Linked DNA regions of Homo sapiens. The gene in region 2 interacts genetically with the main gene of each other region. Each region holds a gene or a part of one and is shown on either strand. Other genes may lie near its edges. The genes, in order: KDM5C, WEE1, RB1, RRM2, ADA, CDC73 and TOP1.

Region 1 (3,500 bases), on a different chromosome or scaffold from region 2:
TGTCTCTCCCCCCCGCCCACGTGTATGCATGTATGTATGAACATTGATGTCTGGTGTAGTGCAAAGGCCTTGGATCAGAGGTCAGAAGACGTGGGTTCTTGGCCCCACCACTAACTCAGCATGTAATTTTGGAAATTTCACTTTTTTTCTCTGAGCCTCACTTTCCCCATTTATAAAATGAGAACATTGGTTTAGGTTACTTTAGGTTGATTTCACCACCCCAGCAGGAGCCAGGGCTCTGGGAAGGAGAGGTCTGCATAGGAGGTTGGAAAGGGGTGTTGGAGAGGGGGTTCTTCACAGCTGACCTTTGGGCAGGACACAGCAAGCTCCAACTTGGCAGAGCAGAGTGTCTCCCACTTTCATGATCTTTCCCTGACTTCCCTCCCCAAATCCTCCCATTCTTTGCCACCACAGTCAGGCATCCCAGCACTTACCCCCACCCCCTGGGGCTTCCTCCCCTGCCTCTTCCTGTACCAGGCAGGTGTATGAGAGAGGATCTACAGGAAGCCTTCCAGACTGGGTGAGTGATACACATACTTGCTCCCTGTTCCTTGCTCTTCCCTGCAGTGTCTATCTCAGGCCCTTTAAACTGAGAGAACAAACATTAAAGGCCCAAACCTTTACGTCCTGCCACAATCGGACCTGAGCTACCCTGCATGTGTATTGTGAGGTGTGGTCAGCCTTAGATGTCAGGTCATAACGGTGACTCCTTTGAATAACATTTTCATTTGAAAACTAGTTTTAATTTTCCATATTGGTCTGGCAAGGAAGCCAGGGCTAGAGTTCATATTCCCACCTCACAGATGAGAAAACAGGTTCAGAAAGCTAAAATCTCATAGCTAGTAAGTAGCGGATCTAGAACATGAACCCATATCTTCTGACTCTAGATCCTGTGTGCTTTCCAGTACTCCCAGGCCTGTGTGTCCTACAGCACGTGCCTAGGGGATAAGGAATTAATGTGGGTGTGGAGAAGGTTTAGGGTCAACAAAACAGAGGCTCCATCTCTTAATTTCTTGAAATCCTGGCACTGTACTGTTGGGTGGGACTCAGGAGAAGTTTCCTAGGGCATGTGCATGGGGCCTTGGGTGCAGACTTGAGGGGCTGCTAGACTCTTGTGAGTTCTGGGGGGAGGTGGGGGTGGGTGGTTGGGTAGGATGTTTGCAGGTTAAAGGGTCTGGAGTGGCTAGAGGTTTGGGAAGGTGCCAGTGGGATTCCGAGCTGCTTTTGGTGACTTCCGGTCTTACACTATGCTGAGATAACTCAAGTCCCTTTCCCCTCTCTACCCTCTCAGGACTGGCAGCCACCCTTTGCTGTGGAAGTGGACAACTTCAGGTTTACCCCCCGAATCCAGAGGCTGAATGAGCTAGAGGTGAGAAGACTAGGAGCTGGTGGTGGGGTTGGGAGAATGTATACCTGAGTTCTAATCCCACTTCCCTTATAGTTTCTCTGGCTGAGGTACTTTACCTAGCTAGGCCTTTATTCTCTCTTCTGTGAAATTGCATTACTTTAGTGTGCCCAGGGCGTGGAAGAAGCTTTAGAGCTCTAAATATAACCAAGAGCCAGGGGCATTTAGCATTTGTGATTTGATAGCCCAAAGGCTGGGGACATATATCCCTTTCTCACAAAGGTTTGCTACTTCTGAAACTCCCCTGTAAACTAGCCTACCCTAGCTGAGTCAACAAAAAGGAATTATGGAACTGGCTGATACCCCTTCTTCCTTGGCCAGCTGAATGTGGCTTCATATATCCAATTCATCCACAGCCCTGTGCTTTCTACTTTGCTTCCATGGGTGCTTGGTAAGGTGGGAGTTTGGGTAGATGGGCAGAACAACACAAGAACTGGGCTCTGTGGAGGCTGGAATGGTTAGAGACTTGGCCAGGGGTCAGGCAGGTAGGATTTTCCTTCTCCCTTTTGTTCTGTACAGGAAGTCCAGGCCCTTTTCATGGACAGGTGGGGTTTTTCCTGCTTGAGAATGCCCTGGGGTAGTGAGATTAGGTTCCCTAAAGCCAGTTCCACGTAAGATCCTGGAGTTTTCCATGGCAGCTCTAGGTTAGGCATATGTTGCCACTCCCTCCCCCATTATTATGTACCCACAAATCTTAATAGATGTCCAAGGGGTGGGGCATTAGGCCCAGGCCCAGCTGAATACTTATACCCTAAAAGTTCACTTGTGTTCTAGACCAGAGTTCCTCAGCCTCGGCACTATTAACATTTTGGGAAGCTAAGGTGGGAGGATTGCTTGAGCTCAGGAGTTCAAGACCAGTTTGGGCAACATAGCAAGACCCCATCTCAGAAAAGAAAAATATATCTTGTCAGGTTTATAGGGGTACAGCTTGGGCAAGATGTTGCCTAGCATGACACAAGGGCAGGTTTTCTGTAGAGGGAGTGCTGACTAATAAGAAGGAGCAGGGATGAGGCCAACTTCAGAAAGCTAAGGGGCTGAGGTTGAAGGAGCACTTCCTTGCCCTTTGAGAGTTCTCACAGCCAAGGAACTGTAGGTTGTTTCTTTCTACAAATAGACCTTAGTTTTTCTCAACTATGAAATGGAAAGAGCTGTCTTTGTTCCCCCTAATGGGATCAGGGCAAGGTAGTGAATGGTAATGACTATCTAGTTCTTCCAAGAACCAGGCTCTCTGACTGGAGTGAGGAGGTTGTAGACTTGGGGCCTATGGGAGTCCTTCTTGGTTACTGAGATTTCAGGGAAGCATCATACATATCTTGTTTCTAGTCTCCTTGGCCCACATTGGGTCCTGGGTTGGCCAGGTGCTAGTGCTACTCTGATATACCATCTCTTAGTTCTAGGCCATTCTGTCTATAGTTATAGCATGCACTTTCACCCTTTAGCCACCATGGAACAAGTTTGGTGGTACATAAGGAGGTGCATGTGCCTTTTTGGAGCTTGCTTTCTCTGAAACATGCCTAGAGCTTAGATATAATTCTGAAATCTGCAGAGGATCTTCACTGGTCCCCTCATTAAGTCTACCCCTCTGGGGTAAGTGGACTGTGCAGTTATTTTCCTTTTATAATTATTAGTAAAAGGAAAAAGGAGTCCACAGTGGAACTGATTTGCTCAAGGCAGCATAGCAAATCAGTAGCAGAGGGAGAGCCAAAGCTCAAATTATTTGGCACCAAAATATCTTGATGCTTGCTGTGTGTCCTAACTCCTCTGAGCCTCTGTTTCCTCATCTGTATAGGAGATGATAATACTCACATGACCTTGTCAGGGAGATTAGAGGACATATCTAAAGCTTTTGGCAGTTGTGACCCTCTCTATTGGGACCTTGGGCTTCTCTGATTGACTGGAAGGTGACAAATGAGAGAGAGGTGGCTGGGTGCAGTGGTGCAGTGGCTTGTGCCTGTGATCCCAGCTCTTTGGGAGGCCGAAGTGGATGGATTGCTTGAGCTTAGGAGTTTGAGACCAGCCTGGTAACATGGTGAAACTTCATTGCTACAAAAAATACAAAATTAGCCGGGCGTGGTGGCGTGCGCCTATAGTTCCA
Region 2 (3,500 bases):
AACATTTTGTCTTTTGCTCTTTTGTCCCCTATGGTGTTACTAACATTAAGGTTTCAGCTGGTCAAACACTGAATTCCATCTCTAACTTTTGAGAAGCTGTAATGATTTAATCAGGTCCTTTTCACTTAATACCATCAGTTCTTATTGGACTTGTTGAATAATATGAGTCTGATTTTGGAACCTAACTTAAATTTCTTATTTCTAGTCAGCATCCATGAATTCACAGTAAAATGGAGTTTATTCTTACCTGAGTCCTAGGGCAAGCAACATTTCTTCTTTCTGATAAATCTTTAATGGAATCTGCCTTTGGAAAAATCTCTTACAAGTCTAAACCCCTTCTCTCTTAAGCAAGTTGCTTTTTAGCATAACAATAGATACCAAAAATTTATTGTATGAAGTTTCAGATAAATTAATTCAGTTTAAGCTTGAGTGAAAATTATTTACCATTCTATTAATCTCAAATTTCTTCTAGGCAGAACGCTTTGAGAGAAGTATATGCTCATGCAGTGCTTGGACAGCATTCTCATGTAGTTCGATATTTCTCTGCGTGGGCAGAAGATGATCATATGCTTATACAGAATGAATATTGTAATGGTGAGTGATGTAATGGTTTTCTTGTGAGCTTGAGAAAATGAACATCGAGGAAATATTTATGGTTATCTAAAATCTTGCTCTATTTCTGTCACTTTTATCTTTTATAAATTTAAAGATCAGAGACCTAACATAAATTTCAAGTACAAGGTTAAAAACCTTGTCCTTTCTGAAGCACCTTGTACATATCTCAGTAGTAGAACTTCGCATACTATTTATGTGCTTGTCGCTCCAACTGAGCTTTTTGACAAGACTATGGCCTCGACACATATATTTTGGTGTCCGTAGTACCTAGCGTAGTGTGTGAAGCATATAGTATTATGAAGTGTTAAGTTGAATAGATTCTTCCTGTGTCTGGTCTTTGATTTCCATTTCATGTGAGGTGCTGCTAAAACTGATGTTTGTTAGTCACTGAGTCTCTGTTGATCTAAATTCAGCTGTTTCTTTAAGCATTCTGTAGTCCGGCCCTACTCCCACGTATCCAACCTAGTCTACCCTAGAATCCACTAACGCTTTATTATGTTACATTCTTTTAGTTCTCTAGCTTGTCGTCTCTCCCTCCTCTCCCCTAAGGATGAAACAAAACAGGCATGTATAGATTCAAGTTTGGATGTCTTGTATAGCTTTCAGTTTCGGTAAGTCCTTCAAGGGCCGACTTATGTCTCTCCTTTTCTATTAAAAACCTTTACCAAAGTCTTGGTCAGAATTCTGGTTCTTATGGACGTCTGTCATTATTATATACCAAATCTTTTATGGATTATTTCTCAACACTTTTGTAGTTTATAAGTGTGATGATTGGGTTTTCATACTCAAGTGTGAAATGTGCCTCCCTCAAACCTTGTTACGACATCAGCACATTACCAGTCTGAAATGAAAAATATCTGTAGTTTGTTTCTATTTCTGTATATCTTCTGTGAATATAGACAATTTAGAGTTTAGTGAACACTTGAGAGGAGATAACAAAATTTATTTTTGTTGATTCTTATTATTCCTTAAATAAACAAGACCAGTTATCTCATAACTTGTAAATAAATAAGTGGTGTAGGTATGGATTCAGGTTCCCCATATTTAAAAACAGTGAACAAAACAGAAGTAAAAGATCCATTTTTCAAACCTGATTCCTCATTATTTAATAAAGTTCTCCACACTTGAAAGAACTTGAGTGTCTAGTATACAGCCTTGCTGCTAGTTTTTTTCACACAGCTCTTGAAATGTTTCTATTCATACCATCAAAATATTTATGTAACTATCACAACCTTATGGATTATTCTATTTCTTAACCTTCATTTTTCAGGTATTGCATTTAACCTAGAACAACTTGACCACAATGTCGTCTCCATTTGATATTTGTTAGACACCATCTCTTTTCAGTTTCCTTCTTTCTCTTTCTCACCTTCTTGATGTGAATAATTCTCTTAACAGAATAGTTCATTAGTAGTCCAGGAATGTCAAATATGTAGCAACCTACCAATACATGGTTGTGTAAATCAGATGATTCTGAGAAAACTCACGTGGGCCTGGGAGATAGGGAACTGAGTGAGTAGTCTTGCTACCCTCTCAGATTACAAAAACCTTGTCCTGTAATGTTAGATTATAAAATAATCTATTGAAAATAAGTTTTTATTTATTTATTTATTTATTTATTTATTTATTTATTTATTTTTGAGACAGAGCCTTGCTCTGTCGCCCAGGCTGGAGTGCAGTGGCGCAATCTCTGCTCACTGCAACCTTTGCCTCCAGGGTTCAAGCGATTCTCCTGCCTCAGCCTTTTGAGTAGCTGGGATTACAGATGCGCGCCACCACTCCCAGCTAATTTTTGTATTTTTAGTAGAGATGGGGTTTCACCATGTTGGCCAGGCTGGTCTTGAACCCTGACCTCGTGATCCACCTGCCTCGGCCTCTTAAAGCAATATAAAACTCTTGAAGAAAATAAATAGTCCTGCATGAAACAGGACTGCCTCTTTGTGTGGCTATTTGTCCTACTTAGATAAAAGAAAATACGACTATCTGGATGCATTTGTGATCTCTTTTGTTTCCTGTGTCCACCGTTCCTCTCTCCACATAAAGCTTTGAATATACCAATAGGGCTCATCTTCACATCTTTTCCACAGTTTCACTGGAAAAGGATTCTGATATTTATTTGTACATGAGTAACTGATTCCCTTTATTGTGATTTAATTTCCTTATTATCTTATTCATTTGCATTATAAGCCTTTTATCTTGGTTTGGTGATAGATTGGAATTAACCTGTATAAACAAGTGTAGAAAAATATTGATGGATAGGGAAAGAGAACCTGAAATGTCAGAACCTGTTTTGCTCTCATCACCTTTCTTGCCCTTCTAGCAATAAGAGAAGAAATGGGCACAGCTATGGTTGCTGGACCTGCTAAAAAAGAGAATTAGCCATATTCTTTCTTAGCACATTTGATCTAGGACTTAGCCTATCTTGTCTGACAGCGTTATTGGTTTGCTCCCTTCTAGAGCACTCTTTCCCCTCCCTCAGTTCAAGATTTGTACAAGTAAGGAGAACATACTTAAGACTAAGATACCGAGATGTATAATTTATTTTAAAAACACATTTGACGTTATGTTATTTTCTTATTTAAATTATAGGACCTCCTTTTCTGACTAATACATCATTGACCTTCCTAATTTTAGTACCCAGCTCTGATTTTTTTATTCCTAAGCCTTAAACAGGAGATATTTAAAACAATTCCTCATTGCCTTTGAGATGAAATACAAACTTTAAAAGTTTGAAAAAATATAAACAAATTAACTGATTGATTTAACTAATTCTATAAAAGCAGGTTATGGTCTCATTCATAGTAAGAGTAGTATAAATTATAACTATACTAAAATACTGTCTTTTTACCTATAACATTTATAGACTTGTCAAGGGTATGGGGAAA
Region 3 (3,500 bases), on a different chromosome or scaffold from region 2:
AAAAAGAATAAACATACAGAGCAATGGAATAGAACTGAGACTCCAGAAATAAACCCTGGTTTTTATAGTCAACTGATTTTCATCAAGGGCACCAAAACAATTCAATGAAGAAAGAATAGTCTTTTCCATAAGTGGTGCAGAGACAACTGGATATCCACATTCAAAAGACTGGAGTTAGACCTCTTCCTCACATCATACACAAAAATTAACTCAAAAAAAAAAAACAAAAAAAAACCCAAGACTGACAAGAACTAAAAACCATATGACTTTTAGAAGAAAGCACAGAATAAGTCTTCATGACCTTGGGTTAGTCAAGGCCTTCTTAGATACAACATCAAAAGCCCAAGCAACCAAAAAAAAAACCACCACCAAAAAAAAAATAGAAAACTGGACTTCATCAAAATTAAAATCCTACGCTGCAAATGACATCATCAAGAAAGTGAAAAGGCAACTCACAGAATGGGGGGAAAAGTCTGCAAATAATATATCTTATAAGAGATATGCATAAAGGAGAAGCTTTAACTGCATCTTAAAAACAGAATTTAGGCTAAAAGAAAAAAGAAGGGTATTCCAAAAAAAGGGGAGATCGCATGAATATGAATACTATCATATTCATATGGAAGATATTCATATGGAAGATTCATATGGAAGGGAAGAGAACACAGGCATTGGGGGCCAACAATGGAAATAAAAAATAAGACTGGAAGGAAGGTTAAAGCACAGACCATGAAGAACTACAAATACTGAGAAAGTTTGGACTTTACTTCTTCATAATGGTGGTGGGAGCATGGGAGGGTGTTACAATGGAGGCTACTGAGAGTGGGTTGTAACAATGAAAAATAAATTTTAAAGCAAAAGGGGCAAACTGTACACCAGTCTTTTCTAAAAATCAGGCACAGGATGGATTGGATGGAGAAAAGAAGAGACTAGTCAGAAAGAGGCACTAAAACATGCATAAAAAATGCTCAAGTCAATGACATAAGCTTCCACCTTCTGAAATTAAAAAAATAAAAAGGAAATTAAAACCAAAGCAAACAGTAAAAACCAAGCACTGCTGGTAAAAGAAATGAAGGGACAGACGTGAGAGGCAATGCAAAAAGATAACTTGAGACTGAACGGATAGGTTTAAAATAGAAGGAGTCTGGTATAGTTTTAATTAGTCCTATGGACAGACACTGAATACCAAGGTAAACCTGTAAAGAAAGCAAATGGTAGTGTAAAATTCCACTTCTTCCTAGAATGCAGAAAGCTGCAAAGAGTATTGCTCCCACCCTCACAACAAGAACAAGCCAGATAAGGAACAAAAACAACCTTTCTTGAAATCAACATATCCTTTCCTTATATTTCAGATTATTTAATTTCCCCTAAAAAAAGGAACCTCCAATGAGAGAAAAGATATAAATAATGGCTCATCTGTGGCACAACATGAAAGGAAGAGACACAGGGAACCCTAACAAAAGTAAAAAGTATTCAGCTAAAAATTTTTAATGAATGCTGATTACAAAACAACAAAAATCCATTTAAATATAAAAAAGAAATAGGTTAAAATCAAAATGAAGGTAAACGATACACATTGTAAAGAGTGATCACAAGAAAAGTGGAATCGATATGTGGACACTGCAGAACAAAAGATATAAATTTGGATAAAAAAGCACATTACATAATGATAAAGGTACCAATTTACCTAAAAGGCATAAAAATTCTAAACTTGTATGTACCCAAGGATAAAGCTTTAAAATACACTAATAAAGGCCAGGCACAGTGGCTCACGCCTGTAATGCCAGCACTTTGGGAGGCCGAGGGCAGATCATGAGGTCAGGAGTTCGAGACCAGCCTGACTAACACGGTGAAACCCCGTCTCTACTAAAAATACAAAAATTAGCCGGGTGTGGTGGCGCATGCCTATAATCCCAGCTACTCGGGAGGCTGAGACAGGAGAATCGCTTGGACCCGGGAGGCAGAGGTTGCAGTGAGCCGAGATCGTGCCACGCACTCCAGCCTGGGTGACAGAGCAAGACTCCATCTCAAAATAAAATAAAATAAAAAATACATTAATAAAAAACAGAATTTAAAAGGACCATTCTAATTATAGTTGGAGGCTTCATATTTCTCCCTCAATAATTAGTAAAACACATAGAAAGAAAATCAGTAAGGATATGGATGATCTACTGTACCTTTTCTATGTATAGATATACAAATACTTACCATTGTGTTACAATTGCCTACAATGTTCAGTACAGTAACATGCTGTACACATTTGCAGACTAGGAGCAACATGCTATATACCACACAGCATAGGTGTGTCATAGGCTATACCATCCAGGTTTGTGTAAGTACATGCTATGATGTTCACACAACGATGAAATCACCTAATGATGCATTTCTCAGATGTGTTCCCATTGTTAAGCAACACATGACTGTATTTATTTAAAATATAACCACCATATCACAAAAATAAGTAAGTGGTTCTATCAAGAGCAATATATCCCAAAGCTCTTTGAGATATGTATATCATACATTTCATATACATATATATGTATGTATAACAAAAAGCCTATGAGGTTCACATTCAGGCATTATTTCTGCCTTACAGGTGAGCAAACTGAGACTCACAGAATTAACCAATTTGCCTAAAATCATATAGCTACAATATAATTACAACCAAAGTTTCCTGCCTTGAGGTCCAAGGCATTTTCCATTCTACCATACTACCAATCAAGATGCAGAAAGTAAACCAAAATTCTAACAGCTGATTCACCTTAAGTCACAATATGAACATCACCTTAGCCAATTTCTTAATGGAAAGTCCTATTCATATGCTATAATCAGCATAAATACAATCTAACCTTATGAACAAAGCTAATCTTTATTATTACACTTTACTAAATATTTATTTTAAAAAAAGAAAACACTTTTCTAGACAAAATACCACAAACTTTTCCTTTAAAGGGATTAATATATGCTTTCATGTATGCATAAACAACTTTTCTGATGCTAAAGTACTTAAAAATAAGAATTTTAACAAACATTACTACATCAAAATCACTACAATGCATTTAAAATTGTAACCATTTTAACTGATATCCTAAGTTCTCCTAAAAAAAAATACATCAATGATAAAATTTTCTGGGGTATTTCTTAAGTAAAATTATTCTGTTTGCAAGACCTAATATACATACTCATTGACTCTAATAAGAGCTTTATATGCATTAATTTATTTAATCTGCACATAACTCCAAGATCCAGAAATTACTGTCAGTCCCTTTTACAGGTAAGAAAACTAAGGCTTGAAAATTGTAGATAACATGTTCAAGATAATGGAGTTCGGACATGGTATATCTGTTTGACTCTTAATCCTTGCTCTTAACCCATCCTCTATCCCAATAAACATCACCTACTTTCTATTGTTAAAAAGGGTTTCCTTTTTGACAATATTCCTCCTCTTGTTTCAAAGAAGAGAGACAACTGCCACTAGAATAGCTGCACTGGAAACACATTTA
Region 4 (3,088 bases), on a different chromosome or scaffold from region 2:
CAGCCCCGGCTTCACAAACCCCACGTGCAGTATGGCAGTTAGTATTTTTGGGCACCACCTTTCGGGTGTACCTGTCTCCTATACACCTTGTGCCAATAGGCACAAGGCAAGTCTCTTGCCCAGAACCAGTGGAAAGCAAATGAATTCGTTAGCCTTTACAAAAAACACCTTTTTTTTTCAGACAGTCTCACTCTGCTGCCCAGGCTGGAGTGCAGCGGTGCAATCTCAGCTCACTGCAACCTCTGCCTCCCGGGTTCAAGTGATTCTCCTGCCTCAGCCTCACGAGTAGCTGGGATTACAGGCGTGTGCCACCATGCCAGGCTAATTTTTGTATTTTTAGTAGAGATGGGGTGTCACCATGTTGGCCAGGCTGATCTCGAACTCCTGAGCTCAGGTGATCTGCCTACCTTGGTCTCCCAAAGTGCTGGGATTACAGCCATGCCTGGCCAAAAAATATTTCTCTTCCTGAATTAAAATGCAAATTTTACCAATCAAGAAACTGACATAAGAACAGTTTTATTTTAATCACTTAAGACTTGTGCATTATTCAATTTTGAGACTGAAATACTTGTTTCCCTTTCAACTGATTAGGAAATGGTCTGAGCTGGCAGAAGTTAATCCTCACATTATTCAGCTAATGAGAGACAGAATCCTAAAACCTGATTCCAACTTCCGCCTGTACCTCACAATGCAAGACAAAGCCTTTCATTTTAATGTTGTACACATATAAGGACCATATAATCTGGATTAACTTTAGGTAACAATAACTTAAAAGATAGGAAAATGTATCATATTACAGAGATTTAAAAATTGTCTATACAATAAATGATGAAGAAAACTAACAATAAACAGGACGACGTTCAAATACTGAATACAATTAACAAATGGGGCCAAAAGATCAACATTTATCTCTCATCATCTTTCATGCAATGTCTCAGCTTTCTTCTCCCAAACATAAAGGCAGATTAATTCAAAGTAGCCCTATTAAGAATATTTGTTTATCACGCCTGCAATCCCAGCACTTTGGGAGGCCGAGGTGGGTGGATCACCTGAGGTCAGGAGTTCAAGACCAGCCTGACCAATATGGTGAAACTCCATCTCTACTAAAAATACAAAAATTAGCCAGGTGTGGTAGCACATACCTGCAGTCCCAGCTACTAGGGAGGCTGAGACAGGAGAATTGCTTGAACCCAGGAGATGGAGGTTACAGTGAGCCAAAATCGCGCCACTGCACTCCAGCCTGGGCAACAGAGCGAGACTCCATCTCAAAAAAAAAAAAAAAAATTATGTTTCATTCTGAAATTAATATTTGAATGGAAACTGTATTAACAGCTCATGGTTTCCTACTAAAGTTTAAGATCCCCCTAGACAATGCTCAGATTTAGACAATGCCAGAATAAGACACTGGGTGACTGAAGTATGAACTACAGGTAAAATCTAGAAGAACATAGATAATAAAAAATTTCTGATTTAACAGACATAGTAAATATAAATGAATTAACTCACACAACCTACTTACACCAAACAAAACTAGAATGAACAACTTGTAGGAACCACCTCTAGTTGATTTCACCACTTAACAGGGGCAAGATCTTAGGTGGATCATTTTGTTTAAGGATGACTTGAAATTTTACAATACTACCTTAGCTCCCACATATGAAAACTCTTCAAGAATTTTTTCTCATCAACCAGACGTTGAGGAAAATACAGTGAGAAATAAAATGAAACGGCTTCTCACACATATGAAGGCCCAGATCACCCCTAAATTTCTAGTGATTTAACTTAAGAAGCTCCTTGCCCTGAGAGATTCCTTTATCCCACAACACTCTACTCAGAGGGGGCAGAGAATCCCAGGACACTACACAAGCCACAGGATAAAAACACAACCTGTCTTCTATCTGGCACCAACTGACTAATATCTAGGTATACACAGGACTGACTTTAAAGTTGGTTAACAAATATTTTAATTCATTAAAATAAAACTTAAAAATTACATGCTTAGTCTACACAAGTTTAACTTACTTTAGTCACTTAGTGAATTGTGAATTGGCTCCCATTAGTGGTCAGGAGAATGTATTTGGTGTAGAAACCAAATAAATCAAGCTATTATCGCCTTGTGAGTACAAACAATGTTTATTTGTTTGTAAAGTGCCAGGTTTATATTTAAGTAAACATTAAAATCTGCGTTGAAGCAGTGAGGCTGCATCTTTTAACTGGCTGTGCTGGTTAAAGGACTGTTTAATCCCGCTGTGCTAAGCTCACTAAAGGGTCACCCCTCACTTTAAAGCCAAGACTGCCATTGTCACTGCTATGGTAAGTCACAGCCAGCCAGGCCTTCTGGCAAAAGGTGATACTACCAGCACTATAAACAGACAGGACTGGTTGTGAGGTAGCTACACAGTTTTAAAGATGCTGTTAATGAACATTACGGACAATTCATGGTGTGGCTAGTTGGTAACACTTCAGCTGATTTTTCTTATGAGATGGAAAAAAAAAATCAGCCAAGTAAGGGCACATCTTCAGTTCATTTAGAAGTCAGCATCCAAGGTAAAAGAATTCTCTGTTGGACTTGACATCACTCCCATCCTCTGATACTCGCCTACTCTCTTCTCAAAGAAGTTAGTCTTTCCTTCCAGTGAAATATTCTCCATAAAGTCAAATGGGTTCTCTACTCTGAAAACCTGAAAAGGTTCACATCAAGATATAAATACAGAGCACCAGCTTCAAAACAAGCAAAAGGCTATGTAAACAATACTTTACCTTGCTAAAACCCAGTTCCAGCATAAGTCTGTCTGCCACAAACTCAATGTATTGCTTCATTAGAGTGCAATTCATCCCAATGAGCTTCACAGGCAAGGCCTCAGTGAGGAACTCCTAGGAACCAAAATACAGCTTCTGAATACAACTAAAGCACAGGCATTTTCTAGCAAGCTTGAGTGACCCATTTCATCACCCACTTTACCTGTTCTATCCGAACAGCATTGATAATTATTTCTCTTACTCTCTCCTCCGATGGTTTGTGTACCAGGTGTTTGAACATCAGGCAAGCAAAATCACAGTGTAAACCCTAGAAAAAAAAGTTCAAGAT
Region 5 (4,239 bases), on a different chromosome or scaffold from region 2:
GCTGCCCTGCTCTGCTTTCTTCTAGCTGACCAGGTCCCAGGCCTCAGCTGGTGGCAGGTATGAGAAGCTGAAGGACACAGCAAAGGCTCCTGTCTCAGGAGGTTTGCACCTGGGGCACTGGCACCTCTATCCCCAAAGGCTTCTGCAGAGGTAGTTTAGGAAAGATGGTTAGAGGCATGGGATTTCGAAGCCAGCCTCCCTTGGACTCAAACCCCAGATTGGACATTTCCTAGCTGTGTGATCTTGGGCCTAGTTAACCTCTCTGTGCCTGGATTAAATAAAAAATGCAGATAATGTGTTTAGAACGGTGCCTGGCACAGAAACATCAACACTCCATTAGCTGCAGCTAGTAATGCTAATAATTATAACTGTCATCTGTCCCTCCCACAAGAGGGCAGGGAGCTGGCTCTGGTCACAGTGGCTCTGAGATTCACACTCCTTCCCACTTCTCCTGCCAGCTCACACAAGTTCCTCCTCACAATCATACAAGATTTGTCACGCCTCAAACACATGGCAGGTAACATTCTACCTTCACTCTCAAGCATCACCTTGTGGCCTTGGGACTCAGGACACGGGACACCCACATAAGCAGCTGATGTTCCATCCTCCAGGTGTGGACACTGAGGTCCCAATAGGGAAAATGATCTGCCAGCTTGAATCAGATGGGAGGACTGAGCAAGGCCAAAAAATGGGGATAATAATATGAGCCCCTCCCTTGATGGGCTGTTACAGAAGAACTGCAAGGATCCAATGGGTGTCTGCAACAAGTGCTCTAGAAGTGGGCCCTGCTGTTCTCTCCATAACTCCCAACATGTTCGCAATCAAGGAGCCTTTTTTTTTTTTTTTTTTTTTTTGAGACAGCGTCTCACTCTGTCACCCAGGCTGGAGTGCAATGGCGAGATCTCGGCTCACTGCAAGCTCCACCTCCTGGGTTTATGCCATTCTCCTGCCTCAGCCTTCTGCGTAGCTGGGACTACAGGCGCCCGCCACCATGCCCAGCTAATTTTTTATATTTTTAGTAGAAATGGGGTTTTGCCATGTTGGCCAGGCTGGTCTCGAACTCCTGGCCTCATGATCCACCCACCTTTGCCTCCCAAAGTGCTGGGATTATAGGCGTGAGCCACTGCACCCCGCCAATCAAAGAGCTTTGCTATTGCCATAGGATTCACATCAGGGTACAGTGGGTCCCCAGCCCAAGGGCAGAGGGAGCCCAGAGCATTTAATAAAAAGACTGCAAAGGGGAGGCGCCAATCATGGGCCCCAGCTCCAGTAAGACGTGAAGGAGGCAGGGGTGGGGGTAGGAGGGCTTGTACAGCACCTCAGTGCTTCCAGCTTCTGACGGGGAGTAGCTGAGCATTTTCCCTGGGCTGGGGGCATCAGTAGTGGGGGCCAGGCCTCACCCTCCTCAGAAGGTAGGTGGGCTCTCCACAGCCTGTCTCCCTCACTGACACATGCACACTCACTGGATTCTCACCGGCACTTTTGTGATAGCTGTCATCATCATTCACACCTATTTCTTTTCTTTTCTTTTTCTTCTCTTTTTTTTGAGACAGGGTCTCGCTCTGTCTCCCAGGCTGAAGTGCAGTGGCACCATCACACCTCACTGCAGCCTCAACCTCCTGGGCTCAAGCGATCCTCCCGCCTCAGCCTCCTGAGTAGCTGGGACTACGGGAGTGCACCACCACACACACTTCCCCTAACTTTTTTTATTTTTTGGAGAGACGGGGTCTAGTTTTGTTGTCCAGGCTAGTCTCAAACTCCTGGACTCAAATGATCCTCCCGCCTCAGCCTCACAAAGTGCTGGGATTACAGGCGTGAGCCAACCTCCTGGGCCACTCACACCTATTTCTTAGAAGGGTAAGTTGAGGCTGACTGCAGCTGACTCCTTCCCCAACCACTCTCACACCCTACTGGCTGACTCACCCTGCTTGGCAGACTCCTGGGCCCCTCCTCTCGGACTCTGCGACAGGCCAAGGGGGTCCAGACCCTCCCTGACCCCAACAGTCCCAAGACGCCACAGCTGGTGGGCGGAGAAACAAGGGGATTCTCCCCTGGGGCCAGTGGCCATGGCTTGGCCTCGAGTGAACCCTGCTAGGGCCCCAAACCCAGGGCCTACCTAGCTCCTGTTCTTCCCGCGCGGGGGAAGGGGGGTGCTCTGCTCCCCTCCCTCCCCTTTCTGGCAGGGCTCACGGTTCTTCCCCGGGGCGCATCCACAAACCTGAGCTCCTTGGCGCTCACCACCATAACGCTGGCGTACAAAGCTGCTTCCATTCACTGAGCACTCAGTAGGCGCCGGGCACAGCACTAGGTGCCTATCCGGCGTAGACATCGGGCCTGATCATACAGCTGAGCTTCAGAGACCTCAAGTCCCTGCCCAGGCCCACACAGCGCTCAGCGGTGCTAGGATGCCCACTTGACAGACAGCGAAACTGAGACCCAGAGGGGTCAAGTCAGGGGCAGAAGCAGACTCTGGAGGCCTCCGGGTTCTGGACCTTCTCTGCCCCATTGTCCCTGATTAGCCCGCAAGCAAGCCACGGCCTAAGCCGAAGGAAGAACTCGCCTGCAGGAGCCCCCGTTCGTTCCCAGGGTTTGGACGCCCCGGGCTGGGCCCCGCTAAGCCCCTCGGGCCGCCCAGGCGCCGGACCCCCGTCCCCGGAGCCCCCGCGCGCGCTCACTTTGGGCTTGTCGAAGGCGGGCGTCTGGGCCATGGTGCCCTCGTGCGCCCCGGCGCTGCTCCCTCCGCCGCCGCTCGGTGGGTCTCTGCCGGCTCGGTGGCCGCTCGGCTTTCCCTGGGGCCAGCGGTGGCCGCGGCCGGCCACGCTCTTCTTAACGGGCCGGGCCCCGCCTCCCGCCCCGCCCGCCGCCGTTCCCGGGGCCCGCCCTCTCGCCGGAGCCCCCGCCCCGCCCGCCGGCCTGGATCGCGCATTTCCTGGAATTCTGGACCCGGCGTCCTCGCCCGCCGACCCGAAAACTACGGCCCCGCGGCGCCCGACCGGACCCACCTGTGGGCGCGCGCTCCAGCCGCCTCGCTGGGCGCTGCCTTCCCCCCGGCTCCTCCAGCAACTTTCAAGCGTCCCCCTGCAGTCTGGGCGCTGCTGTGCGCCAGGCCCAAGCTAGAAGCGGGGACCCCGGGAGCATCGCAAGCCTCGAGCGGCGTGCCTTCCACCGGATAGACGGACGCTCGTCGCAGAAACACACACCATAATTGTATAGTTAAGGAACTTTCGAGGGGGGCCAGCCGTGGCCTGCAGAACCTGCAGGAGTTCATCAGGGGTGGGTGGGGGTGGAGAGGACATTCTACGTGAGAGACTCCAGGGAGCTGGGAGTGAAAGGAGGCGAGGAAGGCTGGAGCTCGGAGGGAGGGAGAACACAGACAGTCCCCTCCTGGGCATTCACCTTTAAGAAACCCGCCCAGGCGCAGCCAGAGACCTGTGCAGAATGTTCACACCAGCGCTATTCCGAATAACAGGAACATTGGAAACACCCTCAAATGCCCCTCCACGGGCGAGTGGGCAAATAAACCGGAATATTCACACCATGAAACGTTAGACAGCAGTGAAACGGAATGAACTTCAGCCAGACAACAACAGAAACAATGTCTCAGAAACAATGTTGAGTGAAAAAAACTAAGTTGCGGAAAACTGCATACAATGGTGCAACTTTTAGAATGTGTAAAAGCAAAACCAAAAGTATGTATGTTTAGACACATGCATCGGTGGAAAAAATGTAAAGCAAGGGAAAGATGAGCATAGATACGAGAAGAGTGGTTATCTCAGGTGAAAGGGAAGGAGCCGGGAGGAGGTAAGGACGGAGGGAAATAACACGCGGGTACAGGTTATTTATTTATTTATTTATTTATTTATTTATTTATTTATTTATTTACTGAGACGGAGTTTCGCTCTTTCGCGGAGGCTGCAGTGAAGTGGCGCGATCTGGGCTCACTGCAACCTCTGCCCCTCTGGCCCGCCTCCTCCCCACCGCTCCCCCGCACCCCCAGCGTTTCAAGCGATTTTCCTGTCTCAGCCTCCCGAGTAGCTGGGATTATAGGCGCCCACAACCACGCCTGGCTAATTTTTGTTTTTTGTTTTTTTGTTTTTGTTTTTGTTTTTTTGAGATGGACTCTTGCTCTGTCGCCCAGGCTGGAGTGCAGTGGCGAAATCTCGGCTCACTGCAACCTCCACCTCCTGGATTTTAAGCAGTTCTCGGCCTCAGCGTCCCGAGTAGCTGGGATTACAGGCG
Region 6 (3,500 bases), on a different chromosome or scaffold from region 2:
GAGTTCGAGACCAGCCTGAGCAACATGGAAAAACTCCAACTCTACAAAAATATAAAAGTTAGCCAGGCATGGTGGCAAGCGCCTGCAGTCCCAGCTATACTCCCAGCTACTCAGGAGGCTGAAGGAGGAAGACAACTTGAGCCCGGGAGGGTAAGGCTGTGGCAAGCCAAGATCCTGCCACTGCACTCCAGCCTGGGTGACAGAGCAAGACTCTGTCTCAAAAAAAAATAAAAAATAAAAATAAACCAGTCTATATGGAATATCATAAACAGTTAAAAGATTTGAGTTAATTTTAAGTTACTGTTTCTAAGTCTAATAACTTACATCATCATTTGGTCACTACTGAGTTATGTACACATCACAATCCACTGAAAAAGATTACATCTACTCACACTAAAATAGGAACTAAGGATCAGGAATCTGTTTTCAGAGTGGTCTGCTCAGCCGGACGCAGTGGCTCACGCCTGTAATCCCAACACTTTGGGAGGTCGAGGCGGGCGGATCGCGAGGTCAGGAAATCAAGACCAACCTGGCTAACGTGGTGAACCCCCGTCTCTACTAAAAATACAAAAATTAGCCAGGCATGGTGGCGTGTGCCTGTAATTCTAGCTACTTGGGAGGCTGAGGCAGGAGAATCCCTTGAACCCAGGAGGCGGAGGTTGCAGTGAGCCGAGATCACGCCACTGCACTCAAAAAAAAAAAAAAAAAAAATGAGTGGTCTGCGCACAGGAAAGAGCAAATAACACAAAGTAATTAGGAGACAACAATCTCGAATTCATAGAATTTTGGAATTTTAGAATCCTACTCTTTCAATCTGGCAAATACTTATGAAAAATGAGTTAAATCTTATGCAACCAAGGGTCCCAAGGTCCACAGTAACAATTACAGCTATCAGTTATATGCACAACCATTTCCCAAAAACAGAATCTATAAATCTAAGCCAACTATCTGAATCTTTGTTACACTAAAATGAATATATCCAACAAAACACTGTAAGAACTACCTAATTTAGTTTTTAAAGATCTGAGTTAAAATAACCTTAAAGACGGAGCTGGTGCTATTTTTTTCCCCTTATTTTCCCAAGTAGTCCCACTCTAATTTTATTTTTTTAAATATGTAACATAAATATATATTTCTTACTCAGGAAAGCAGAAGCCTTATGGTTTAATACAAAGCCCACTAAGTGACGGGATACTTTCTCAATTGCTATAATCACACACACACACACACACACACACACATTTTTTTTTTTTCCCTGAGACAGAGTCTTTGCTCTATCACCCAGGATAGATGCATTGGTGTGATCATGGCTTACTGCAGCCTCAACCTCCTGGGCCCAAGTGATCCTCCCACCTCAGCCCCTTGAGTAGCCAGCTGGGAGTATAGGTGCACACTACCACGCCTGACTAATTTTTTTTATTTTTTGTTTTAACAAAGTTTCCCTATGTTGCCCAGGTTGGTCTTGAACTCCTGAGCTCAAGTGATCCTCCCACTTGAGCTCAGCCTCCCAAAGTGCTGGGACTACAGGCATGCACCACCACACCTGGCTTTTAGTTGCTTTAGACAACAAGTTATTGTTTGAAAGATACATAAGCCAGAAACCTTAACTATTTCTAGTTGGGAGGGAGGTTAGAGTTATAGAAGTTAAGTTTCACACAGCTTAATGTGATCCAGCAACGGTGTTAGGTAACTCAAAAAGCAGCTCCAGTGATGACAGACACAGTGATATTTTAAAAAATTGTTTTAAGAACTATAAGAAAAGTTTAAGAAGATTGTTTTAAGAACTATAAGAAATGGGAAAAAGTAGTTATTTATAAATACATTTCATACTTAATTTTAAGTGTATACTTGTAAGCAAAAGCAACAAATATTAAAAGCAGACATTTAATTATTTCAATTATATCTTCAAAAAATTTTATGTTCAACTCTACCAAAAATAATCTGAGGGAAAAGCTCATTTAAAAAAATTAAATATCTTTTAGGCCATTTTATGTGGGCATTATAGTACTTTTCCATGTCATACAGCTATCCTATCCAAATAACTCTGAATCTTATTTACTTATCAATTATAATATACTGCTATAATTTAGGTCTTAATGATACTTCCCTACAGATGAAGAATCTCATCATCATAGTTTATGAAATTAGTTCTTTTCAAGTTGTTTCCAAATATTTCCTCTGAGTAATAAATTTTCAAACACTGAGAAAGCAAGCAAAACTAAAAACAAATGAACTTCTCCAGAGTACTAAAACAGCTGCACAAAACTGATTAAGAAACAATTTTTTTAAATGTCTGCTAATCTTAATCCTTACAACCAAAAAAAGTTTTCTTGAGATTAAACTAGAGTTCTGAAGTAACAGGGTCCTTCCACAGGCTTACAAGTTTTTCTAAACATCTCTATAAATACTTTTAGCGTTTCGGGTTTTCTTTTTCTTGAGATGGCATCTCACTATGTTGCCCAGGCTGGTCTTGATCTCCTAGGCTCAAGCAACCCTACCGCCTTAGAGTCCCAAGTAGCTGGGATTACCAGCGTGCACTAAGAAGCCTGGCTCTATAAATCCCTTTAAAACTTCCTTTGTTATAAACATTACCCACACTTTACATGAAAAAATATCACAGATTAAAAAGTCTGTGTAAGTCACACAGTCACCTAATTTTGACTCTCCTGGAGACACTCATACAAACCTTTCATTCTTTTGATTTGAAACCCATGAGGGAAGCTATCCATTCCAAATGATACCTACTACCACGAAGCCAAAAAAAAAAAAAATGTGTTAATACAAAAATTAGCCCGGCATGGTGGGCCATGCCTATAGTCCCAGTTTCTCAGGAGACTGAGGTGGGAGGCTGGCTTGAGCCCGAGAAGTAGAGGGTACAGTAAGCCGAGATCACACCACTGCACTCCAGCTTAGGCAACAGAGCCAGATCCTATCTCAAAAAAAAAAAAAAAGTTTTAAAATGAATTATTGGCCAGGCACAGTGATTCATGCCAGTAATCCCAGCACTTCGGGAGGCCGAGGCAGGAGGATCCACTGAGGGTAGGAGTTCAAGACCAGCCTAGGCAACACAGCAAGACCCCCTCATCTTTAACAACAACAAAAAAAATTAGCCAGATACGGTGGCACAGGCCTGCAGTCCTGGCTACTTGAAGGCAGAGGTGGGAAGATCACTTGAGCCTAGGAGTTCGAGGCTGCAATGAGCTATGATCACACCACTGCACCCTAGCCCGGGCAACAAGGCCAGACCCTGTCTCTTAAATAAATAAAAATAAAACTGATAAATAGATAGATAAGTAAAATGAATTCTACTTACAGCTGCACGTCGGACATAAACAGGATGAGAAAGGTGCACGTTATTAAGTAGAAATAAAATGGAATCCAATGTGTAGTACTCTCTGGGTTGGCCTTCCTTTCCAGTCCTGAAATAATTAAGGCAAGATTTTTTTTACTGACAATTCTAATTCAACTCTTCAGGCTGGATTCATTTATATAAACAACTT
Region 7 (3,500 bases), on a different chromosome or scaffold from region 2:
TTGAGACAGGTTTTTCCCATGTTGCCCAGGCTGATCTTGAACTCCTGGGCTCAAGTGATCTGCCCATCTCGGCCTCCCAAAGTGCTGGGATTATAGGCATGAGCCTCCAGGCCTGCCCCAAAGATTTTTAATCCACAATTTAAGGTATGAGAAACAAACAAAGTGGTGTGTATGCAGCAAGCCTTGTCACTGGACAACTGAAGTTGCCGCAAAGTCAAAGCAAGTCAGTACCCTCCTGAGCCAGCCTTTCTATGATTTACAGCAATAGTATCATACTCAATGCTCCCTAGTGACCCCTCCAGCTTGGTTAAAATTTCACAATAGATATATGTGCAAATTTAAAGAAAGTAAAGATGTTCCCTTTGTACAAAAGCCTAATAAAGCAATTTCTGAAAAAGGTGTTGTTGTTGTTGTTTTTTAGCATTGGCAAGGAACTAAAAATTCTGTTCTAAGCTTCACCTTTCATAAAGTAATCCTCTCATGCTCTTTAATCCTCAATGTTGTAAGGTAAGTATTAAACCTACTTTATAGGTGAAGAACTAAGGCTCTGATATTAACTTGTTCAAAGACCTAGCCATTGAGCAGAAGCTCAAGAACTCGAATTTAAATTCCCTTTAAGTCTCTATTATGGGGTGGTGGGGATGTAGAGGGGGTTGGAGGCCGGGAGACTATTCGCATTCTGTATCAGAGGAAAACGAAAGAAAAAGAGACCAAAGCTTTGAAGACTTTTAAATCCAACCCTATTGTGGGCACATTCCTTGTATACTGAGGGCAATGGAGCTACAGAGCATTAACAAATACTCATCTTCCCAGATTTTTTTCCCCATATTTTATGAGCTATATTTTTCCTGATATGTTTATCTTTGAAGACTCTTTAAAATTAGGCCCTATTCCATAATTTCTATACAACAAAATTATGTCCTCCTGCCTACTTTTAATTGAATTTAAGTCTGCGCCTGTTGTGATGCTTCTGTGATAATCCTTTTGCTGAATGGCGTAAGATCTCTACTAAGATCCATTTGGCTTAAACCTAATGAACACTAGTGAACACATCCTTAAATGACTTTTGTTTATTTCCTTTAAGTAACACTTCCAAAAAAACAAATTCAAGGCAATTCAATATTCAGCATTAGCTAGACTTATGAGCCATTACTGAAATTTCTACTGACTTTATCAAATTTTTTCATGGAATCTCCCAAATGCCTATACTCACGCATAACTGTTAACACGGCATTTGGTACTAAATTCTCACACATAAGCTTTATTATATTATTTAAGGTATTCTTATTCCCAAGAATTACTATTTCAAAGAAAACCAAGTTGGTCACTTTAAGCAACTATTTGAATAAATGAAAAACTGAAGTAATTCTCAGGTGCTTTGAGAGTTCTCTGTTTAATTTAAAAACGTTTTGGGGGAGAAGTAAAATAGTGGCCTTTGAAAAAATATGCTGACACAAGACATATTGAATTTTGTGGTTTTAAAAAATTAACAAATAATGAACTTGGCATTTTATTAAATGCATCGAAAAGGGTCAAGTTATTTTTAATAGAAAATCCATAATTCTATTAAATGGTTGAGAAATTAGTCACATCAATAGACTTCTTTCATTTCTGAGCCCATCTTCTGTACTGCTACAAGTTCCTTTGGCAATGACCACTTTGCTGTAAACATTCTTAGAAAAGTAGGAATTAGGCTTGGCGCGGTGGCTCATGCATGTAATCCCAGCACTTTGGGAGGCCGAGGCTGGTGGATCACGAGGTCAGGAGATCGAGACCATCCTGGCTAACACGGTGAAACCCTGTATCTACTAAAAATACAAAAAATTAGCCAGGCGTGGTGGCGGGCGCCTGTAGTCCCAGCAACTTAGGAGGCTAAGGCAGGAGAATGGCGTGAACCTGGGAGGCGGAGCTTGCAGTGAGCCGAGATTGCGCCACTGCACTCCAGCCTGGGTAACAGAGTGAGACTCCATCTCAAAAAAAAAAAAAAAAGAAAAGTAGGAACTAGATATACAATTGGATCCTTCTCAGCCCAAACCTAGATATGAAGACACCTTTTACTTTACAGTGACCGCTTTGTAACTGGAAGACATCAGTGTAGGCTCTGCTGATTCAATTAGGTAAAGACTCAACAACACTAGTTACATGTTACAATTCACTGTGTAAATGTCAAGAAGATTTAAAACTTTAACAGGGAATACCAATGAAAGACAGACTCCCCAACATCAATCACTATTTCAAACCTAACATTCAAAATAAAGATCCAGTTGAGAATAGAGGCTGTCTCATCAAAGTTTACATTTTACAATGAGGACAGAGAGGCACCTTCATATACTTATCTAATTCTCAACAGTTTGTGAAACATAAATATTATCCTTGCTTATGGATAAGAAAACAAGGTTCAGTGGTCAGATCATGTTTCATAGGAAGAACAGGGACTTATCTCGATTTTTCGGAATCCTACACCAATTTTCTATTTTACCACAGCTGTCTCCTCACACCCCCACTCTTCCCCTAGACCTAACATTCCACATACAAAGGGTCCAAGCTATCTCTAACAGCAGATAATCAAGGGCAGGTTCTGACATCTGTACTAGAAGCTTACCAATTACAGCCTGAGTGGGGTTTCCAGAATCTGGACCAAGGCAGCATGTTATCAAAAAGGGGACATGAAAAGGCATAAAGGGTAAAAAGAAAAAAACGTTTCCTTTCCTGGTCTCTGGTTCTCCCCATAAGCCTATGCAATCTATATTATCTTTATTCAATTCAGATTTAATGCACATAAAAATGTGGTGCCTAATAAGTTTTCAAAATTAGTTCCCTTCATCCCACTTCTGCTGCTTGGCAAGAGCTCACATAGTCAACTACAAGGAAACAAAGGGGCTACCTTACTGGAGTCAGGTTAAGTAAAAGGTCTTAGCCAATGAGATCCACAAATGACAATGATCCTGAAGCCTCCTAGATTAGTCTCCTGCACAATCAGTAATATACCTACAAAGCTTTATAAATCTGGGCATTCATACATATATGATAGCAAGATTAACATTTGGACTTCTACTAAGGGGAAAAAGGGTGTATTATTCTGGTGGAGGACTAACCTTCAACAAAGAACTTTTTTTCTATAAACTCCAATAGCCAAGAAAAGTCCTAGGCATCTATCTTTGCTAGCGTGTGCTAAGAAAAACAATATAAAGAATAATGGGACCACAAGCTGGCTGGGTCGGTTTCGTTCTTAAAATATAGGAAAACGTCAGAATACCCAGGGATCTGTTAAATTCTTTTCCCAACATCATCATTTACAACAACAAATACAGGAGATCTGAAGTCCCTAAAAATACTGATTGCTTTAACATCTTTTGTTGGAGCTTACCTAGGTGTTTCTTAGGAATGCTAATGAACTGTGTTCTTTAGGCTCCTTGAATCCACAGAAACAAAAATGTTAATTTCAAAGGCTCAGAGGGGAATTAATTGCCTGGTAGAGATGCCTCCCCACCCCAAATCTG

The links.
Region 1: changes in WEE1 (region 2) and KDM5C together harm fitness more than expected from each alone (negative genetic interaction), as found in Homo sapiens cells (one large-scale study listed by BioGRID).
Region 3: changes in WEE1 (region 2) and RB1 are lethal when combined (synthetic lethality), as found in Homo sapiens cells (one large-scale study listed by BioGRID).
Region 4: changes in WEE1 (region 2) and RRM2 together harm fitness more than expected from each alone (negative genetic interaction), as found in Homo sapiens cells (one large-scale study listed by BioGRID).
Region 5: changes in WEE1 (region 2) and ADA are lethal when combined (synthetic lethality), as found in Homo sapiens cells (one large-scale study listed by BioGRID).
Region 6: changes in WEE1 (region 2) and CDC73 are lethal when combined (synthetic lethality), as found in Homo sapiens cells (one large-scale study listed by BioGRID).
Region 7: changes in WEE1 (region 2) and TOP1 are lethal when combined (synthetic lethality), as found in Homo sapiens cells (one large-scale study listed by BioGRID).

Annotation. Positions count from the first base shown.
Region 1 is NC_000023.11:53,218,708-53,222,207, reverse strand, and holds part of KDM5C (lysine-specific demethylase 5C), read left to right. Parts: intron 1-1,291; coding exon 1,292-1,369; intron 1,370-3,500. UniProt on the Homo sapiens protein: Histone demethylase that specifically demethylates 'Lys-4' of histone H3, thereby playing a central role in histone code. Does not demethylate histone H3 'Lys-9', H3 'Lys-27', H3 'Lys-36', H3 'Lys-79' or H4 'Lys-20'.
Region 2 is NC_000011.10:9,576,670-9,580,169, forward strand, and holds part of WEE1 (wee1-like protein kinase), read left to right. Parts: intron 1-472; coding exon 473-594; intron 595-1,358; exon of another isoform or gene 1,359-1,462; intron 1,463-3,500. UniProt on the Homo sapiens protein: Acts as a negative regulator of entry into mitosis (G2 to M transition) by protecting the nucleus from cytoplasmically activated cyclin B1-complexed CDK1 before the onset of mitosis by mediating phosphorylation of CDK1 on 'Tyr-15'.
Region 3 is NC_000013.11:48,310,251-48,313,750, reverse strand, and holds part of RB1 (retinoblastoma-associated protein), read right to left. Parts: intron 1-3,500. UniProt on the Homo sapiens protein: Tumor suppressor that is a key regulator of the G1/S transition of the cell cycle. The hypophosphorylated form binds transcription regulators of the E2F family, preventing transcription of E2F-responsive genes.
Region 4 is NC_000002.12:10,128,827-10,131,914, reverse strand, and holds the end of RRM2 (ribonucleoside-diphosphate reductase subunit M2), read right to left. Parts: intron 3,068-3,088; coding exon 2,963-3,067; intron 2,875-2,962; coding exon 2,761-2,874; intron 2,682-2,760; coding exon 2,529-2,681; 3' UTR 501-2,528; downstream 1-500. UniProt on the Homo sapiens protein: Provides the precursors necessary for DNA synthesis. Catalyzes the biosynthesis of deoxyribonucleotides from the corresponding ribonucleotides. Inhibits Wnt signaling.
Region 5 is NC_000020.11:44,648,900-44,653,138, forward strand, and holds the start of ADA (adenosine deaminase), read right to left. Parts: upstream 2,801-4,239; 5' UTR 2,709-2,800; coding exon 2,676-2,708; intron 1-2,675.
Region 6 is NC_000001.11:193,125,031-193,128,530, reverse strand, and holds part of CDC73 (parafibromin), read right to left. Parts: intron 3,420-3,500; coding exon 3,314-3,419; intron 1-3,313.
Region 7 is NC_000020.11:41,035,322-41,038,821, reverse strand, and holds part of TOP1 (DNA topoisomerase 1), read right to left. Parts: intron 1-3,500. UniProt on the Homo sapiens protein: Releases the supercoiling and torsional tension of DNA introduced during the DNA replication and transcription by transiently cleaving and rejoining one strand of the DNA duplex.